Linked DNA regions of Homo sapiens. The protein of the gene in region 1 purifies or fractionates together with the protein of each later gene. This does not show direct contact. Each region holds a gene or a part of one and is shown on either strand. Other genes may lie near its edges.

What was found.
Region 2: the proteins of STAP2 (region 1) and STAT5B purify together in Homo sapiens (co-immunoprecipitation; one study listed by IntAct). This does not show direct contact.

Annotation. Positions count from the first base shown.
Region 1 is NC_000019.10:4,326,052-4,329,011, reverse strand, and holds part of STAP2 (signal-transducing adaptor protein 2), read left to right. Parts: intron 1-202; coding exon 203-337; intron 338-1,626; coding exon 1,627-1,696; intron 1,697-1,785; coding exon 1,786-1,888; intron 1,889-2,004; coding exon 2,005-2,070; intron 2,071-2,960. UniProt on the Homo sapiens protein: Substrate of protein kinase PTK6. May play a regulatory role in the acute-phase response in systemic inflammation and may modulate STAT3 activity.
Region 2 is NC_000017.11:42,198,592-42,201,267, forward strand, and holds the end of STAT5B (signal transducer and activator of transcription 5B), read right to left. Parts: 3' UTR 586-2,676; downstream 1-585. UniProt on the Homo sapiens protein: Carries out a dual function: signal transduction and activation of transcription. Mediates cellular responses to the cytokine KITLG/SCF and other growth factors. Binds to the GAS element and activates PRL-induced transcription.

The DNA.
Region 1 (2,960 bases):
AAAACAAAAAACCCCACAAAAACTAGGAGCCTGGAAGGCCGGACTGGGTCTCCGTGGGAGGGGCCTGGGTCTGGAGAGCAGGGCAGGGTCTCCTGGGCCTAGGGGATGGGGATGGGGCTGGGTCTCAGAGGAGGCAGGGTTTACGTGCAGAAGAGCGGACTTGGTCTCCGGGGTCCCGAGTGGGTGACGCGGCCCGCCACAGGTGCTTCCTGAAGGTGAGCCGGCTGGAGGCACAACTGCTCCTGGAGCGCTACCCCGAGTGCGGGAACCTGCTGCTGCGGCCCAGCGGGGACGGCGCCGACGGCGTGTCGGTCACCACGCGGCAGATGCACAACGGGTGCGCATGCGCGTCTGGAGAGCCCTGGGTGGGAGGAGGGTGGGAAGAGGGTGGGCGCGGGGGCGTGGTCAGAAGCAGGGGCGGAGTCCGACCCGCTAGTGGGTAGGCCAGGGGACGGAGCCAGAGCCGAGACGGGCGTCTGGGGACGGAGTCAGAGCTGAGCTGGGCGGATTGGGGGAGGAGTCAGAGCTGAGGTGGGCGGATTGGGGGAGGAGTCAGAGCTGGGCTGGGCGGATTGGGGGAGGAGTCAGAGCTGGGCTGGGCGAGCTGGGGCGGGTGGAGTCAGAGCTGAGCAGAGTACACTGGTGGCGGAATCAGAGCTACGCTGGGCGTGTTGGGGCGGAGTCAGAGCTGGGGTGGGCGGGCTGGGGGAGGGGTGGAGTCAATGCTAGGCAGGGGAGCATGGGGGCGGAGTCAGAGCTGGGCAGGGAGGGCTGGGGGCGGGATCAGAGCTCCGGGGTCGTGGGATCCTGAGGCTGGCCTTGCCCCAGGTATGGGGTTAATGCCTAGGGAAGAAGGTAGAGCCCAGGCCGACTCCTTTGCAGGAAGAGCCAGGTCTTGGGTTAGGAGCTGGGACTCCCTGTAGGTGGAGTCAGACTCCTAGGTTAGGATCGGCCCCTCCGGAACGTCAGGTACGCAGGGGCCAGGTCTGGGCCACTGGAGGGGATGAAGTCAAATCCAGGGATGGGAATGGGCTCTTTGGGCAGCGTCAGGATCTACGGGGGGGAGTCATGGCCGTGATCCTTTTTGGAAGTTGAGTAGGGCTATGGAGGCGGAGCCAGCCCTGGGGGCGAAGTCAGAGCCTTATGCCAAATTCTCAAGCCCAGTCCAGGGTTGGGCAAGGCGATGTAGAAGGTAGAGTCGGTGCCTGGGGGTGGAGCCATTACAGGGGGCGGGGCCTACCTGGGGCGGGGTCTTTAGGGCCTGGTTCTCCCTAGGCGCGGTGCCAGAATTAGGGGCGGACCTTTCCTAGGGTGTTGTCAGTCTGGCCTGGTCCCTCGCTGGAGGTGGTGCCAAGACTAGAGGTGGGGTCTTCTGTGGGGGTGGGTCGGTCGGGCCTGGTCCCCGCTGGGAGCAGTGCTGGGATCGGGCAGTCAGTGCTCCGGGAGGTCAACGGGGCTTAGGTCCTTTATGGGGTGGAACCAGTCAGTGGCGGGGCCTTCTGTGGGGGCGGAGCCAGTATGGACCTGTTTCTATTGGAGGCGGAGCCTGGAGTTGGGGCGGGGCCTTCCCTGAGGGGCGGTGTGGGAGCCTGGGCTGAGCCACTCACTCGCTTTCTCCTGGTGCAGGACGCACGTGGTCCGGCATTACAAGGTGAAGCGGGAGGGCCCCAAGTACGTGATCGATGTGGAACAGCCGGTGAGCGTTGGGCCAGAGTCCCTAGAAGTGACTTTGTGGGGTCCGCGTCCCTTCTCCAGCAGCCTGACCGCTCCCCCATCTGCCCCCAGTTCTCTTGCACCTCCCTGGACGCCGTGGTCAACTATTTCGTGTCGCATACCAAAAAGGCGCTGGTGCCATTCCTGTTAGACGAGGACTACGAGAAGGTGCTAGGTGGGTGCCCCTTCGGGGAGTTCGGGGGCCCAGTGCTCACCTCTCCCGCCCCCGCTCGGACGGACCGGGCCGCCCCTGGCCGCCGCGCTTCCTCCAGGCCGCCCTCTCTGTTCCAGGCTACGTGGAAGCCGATAAGGAGAATGGCGAGAATGTGTGGGTGGCGCCCTCCGCTCCGGGCCCAGGTGACGCCCCCTTCCCGCGGGCCGAGGTGGGAGGGATCGAGGACCCCGCATTCAGCCACGCCCCCTCAGTCAGTTTGGTGGCTGCACCTCCTGCATCTGATGTTCCCAAAGTTGCAGGGACAGAAATGACTCAGACCCTGCCGTCAGGGTGTGTGTGTGGGGGAGGGGGCGGGGGTCCCAGCTTGGGACAGAGCTAAACACAGACACTCTCATCCTGTAGGGTTGAATTTGGGGTGGAGGAAAAACCTGGGCTCGGGGGAGGCGCCTAGAGTTCGGGAGAAGATGGGGGCAGAGCAGGGAAAGCTTCCCAGAAGAGTGGGTCTTTGCAGATGGTCCCAAAGGATCTCCTTAGGTAGAAATGGGCATTGAGGGGTCAGAGGGTACACCCGGACAAGCAGTAGCCCCACAGGGACCGAGAATCCGGGTGGGTGTTGGGAAAGAGGTGGAAATCGGTCCTGTTTATGGAGTGGGAAGAGGAGGCAGAGAACACACTAGAAAGGAATGTAGCGTGGGTTGTCTGGTCTTCCCTGGTCTGGGCGTATGCAAGGACCCCCAAGTGCCACATCCACACACACATTACACATGCATGATCCATGCAACTGTGGCCACCTGCCTAGCCAGAAGGTGACACACACTTGTGCGGGCACAACAGATCACACATGCATAAATACACGTGTGCCCCAATTCCAGTCACATACAAATGCTATGTAGCACAGATACACCTGTGTCATGCCACAATCACATGTGTACACATAAATGCAGATACGTCCGTGCACCGGCACAAACTCGGACACGTGTAGATACACGGGCAAAACGCACTCATGTAGACAAGGACTAAAGCAGCCACCTCAGCAGGCGTGCAGTCACACACGTATACACACCACAGGTGT
Region 2 (2,676 bases), on another chromosome or scaffold:
AATAAAAAAATAAAATAAAAAAAAAGCTTGAGTTGCTCAGTGGCCTTCCTGCATGTTCTTTTGCATAATGACTTTGGGATGCCTTGATTGCAGCAGGAAGCGATATCCTAGCATAATCAGTTGTGGTAGCTGCCTTTCTCCAACTGTGAGCCTCTGCAGGGAAGGCACCATTTCTCATCCCACACACAACGCTGAACTCAGGGTCAGGTACTCTAAATGTGCTGAATCTTAAGGACAGGCTTTCAGCCGGGCGTAGTGGCTCACGCCTGTAATCCCAGCACTTTGGGAGGCTGAGGTGGGCAGATCATGAGGTCAGGAGATCGAGACCATCCTGGCTAACAAGCTTTCTGGAGTCAGGAGGCTAGGAGACCATCATTCTTATTTTCAAAACATCATATGAGCAGGAAGGTATGAAAGGCCCCATCTGCCATCAGAGCTAATGACGTGCCCTCTGAGGCAGCCAACTCCCAACCACCCAACCAGTTCCCTTTTTCAGGGTCACGCTGATGACTTGAAACTTTTCCGTGTTCAAGCTGCCCTCCCTTGGCATGTGACAGAAAAAAGTAAAAACAGGACTCAATACCATCCCTTCAGAGGAAGGCTTTATTGTAACATAAAATACACAACTTTGTGACTGTAACTCTGCATAGGATATATTTCTTTTTTTTGAGGCAGAGTCAAATTTGAGGCCCCAAATTGTACACAATACTTTTTTTTGGTGGCTAAATAACTAATCTGCCTTGACACTAAAATATGTATCTGAAATAATTTCACCAAGTTTTAAAAAGAAAAATTATAAAAAGTATACTTTCATTTTAAGTTATATTCGATTTTAGTCTCCCCCTACCCCCTAGAAAAAACCTGCACATCTCACACACGGAGCTGAAACTTTTGAGGACTTGTGTGTGTCTGGGAGTGGGTGAGAGGCTGATGGGGTCGAGACACACCACTACCTTTATCTTGTGGTTTGCAGGAACAAGGAGGAGAGAGAAGATAGAACGCAGAGAGCGAGCACACCTTTCATCAAAAATCTCCACTCTCTAGGCACAGCCTCGGTAACACCGAGGACAGCTCACAACTGGACAAGCAGGGAAACCCCAGCTCAGGGAAGCCACACTCATCAGCTCTCTTCCTCCCCAACCCAGTGCCAACTGCAAAGTGAGCCAGGACGGCCTGGCTGCTCTGTCCTCAGCAGGCCCTGGGGTGGGTCCACTCCCAACCTGAAAGTGTATCAAGTCTGACCCCCCAACCAGGGTTGCTGGAACAGAGAGCGAGGTCTCAGAGGCAGGTGCTGGTGAAGCATCTCTGGGAGACGGGCAGGGAGTGACTCTACGAGCCTGGATCCCTGAGCAGGCAGGCTCTCCTTCTCACCCTTCCCCGATGCACCCATCCTCATGGTTGGAATTTTCATCAAATCTTGAGGGGTAGGGAGGGGCTGAGTGGGATGCGGGTAGCCTGCTCCTCAGAGGCAGAGAGACTCTACTGCCTGGCATAGAAAAATAAATCAGTGTATGAAACCAAGCCAAGGCAAACGGCAGCTTTAAAAAAGTCATCTTCCAATAAATAATTTACTATAGAGGAATATTTTTAACGGCAAAACACTGATAAATTCAGAAGTTATTTTTGTAAAAAAAATATGTTTATTTACTCTCATGTATAAAAATAAGGTTTTTGGGGCCATCCTCTCCTGGGGGTGCCCATGCCCTTCTTTTGGAGAGGGGGCCGAGGGGTGACCTTTTAGGCCTTACCCGTAAGCTATTTTAATACACCTGCTCACCCCCCTCTTCCTCCACTACCTGCTGTAGCCCATTCCTTCCTTCTGGTGTAAAGCTACAGAAGAAGTCGTGGAACAAAATTATACCGAGGCTTTTTTTGTTTTGTTTTATACTTTTATCAAACTCCCCAGCAAACTTGCTGACTGCATTTCCACACATTACCAACACCTGCCAGGACTTCACAGCAGGGTGACCCGCTAAGCAAGCTGGCCTAGGTTCAGCCCACACTGCTGCTACCTACTCTTCAAGACATTAGGTGTGAACAGAGAAGGGGAATGAGGTGACCTGGGTTTGAATGACCCAGGGCCCAATGCACAAGAGAGAATTTTGATGTCAAATTAGGGTGGCAAGGAGAAAACAAAAAAGATCCAACTTAGAAACAGAACCATGATTCAACATTTGCAAAAAGCATCATCAATAAGCCTGAAGAAGGCCACGGACTGTGCATCCGCTGGCTCAGAGAAAGGCTGGGCAGCCGGAACAGCAGCTTCCTGGGTAACCAGGCAACAATCTCAGCGCCTGGGAGTCAGGGCTGCGCACTCCACTCTGGCCAGAACACAAACGGCATTGGCACTGTAAGCTCTCAGTTACGTGGCCCTCTTTTCTCTCCTCTATTTCTCCAAACATATGTGCACACCCAGAGGAACTGAGTGGCAATTCCAGGGTGCGGGCGGGCAGGAGGGGAGAGAGGACAAAGAGAGAATAAGATGAGCTAAATGTTTTGTGAAAAGCCACCGCCCATCCGAAAGCTTGTGACTTCCCTTGCCCCAACAATCTTTGTAGGTTGCCCCTTTTCCCATTCCTACCCAAGAACACAGGGGTGGGGGAGAGGGAAGGCTCTCTTTGTCAAAAAGCAGTTATCTACATTTCAGAAGAAAAGCAGAGACAATCACGGTTATAT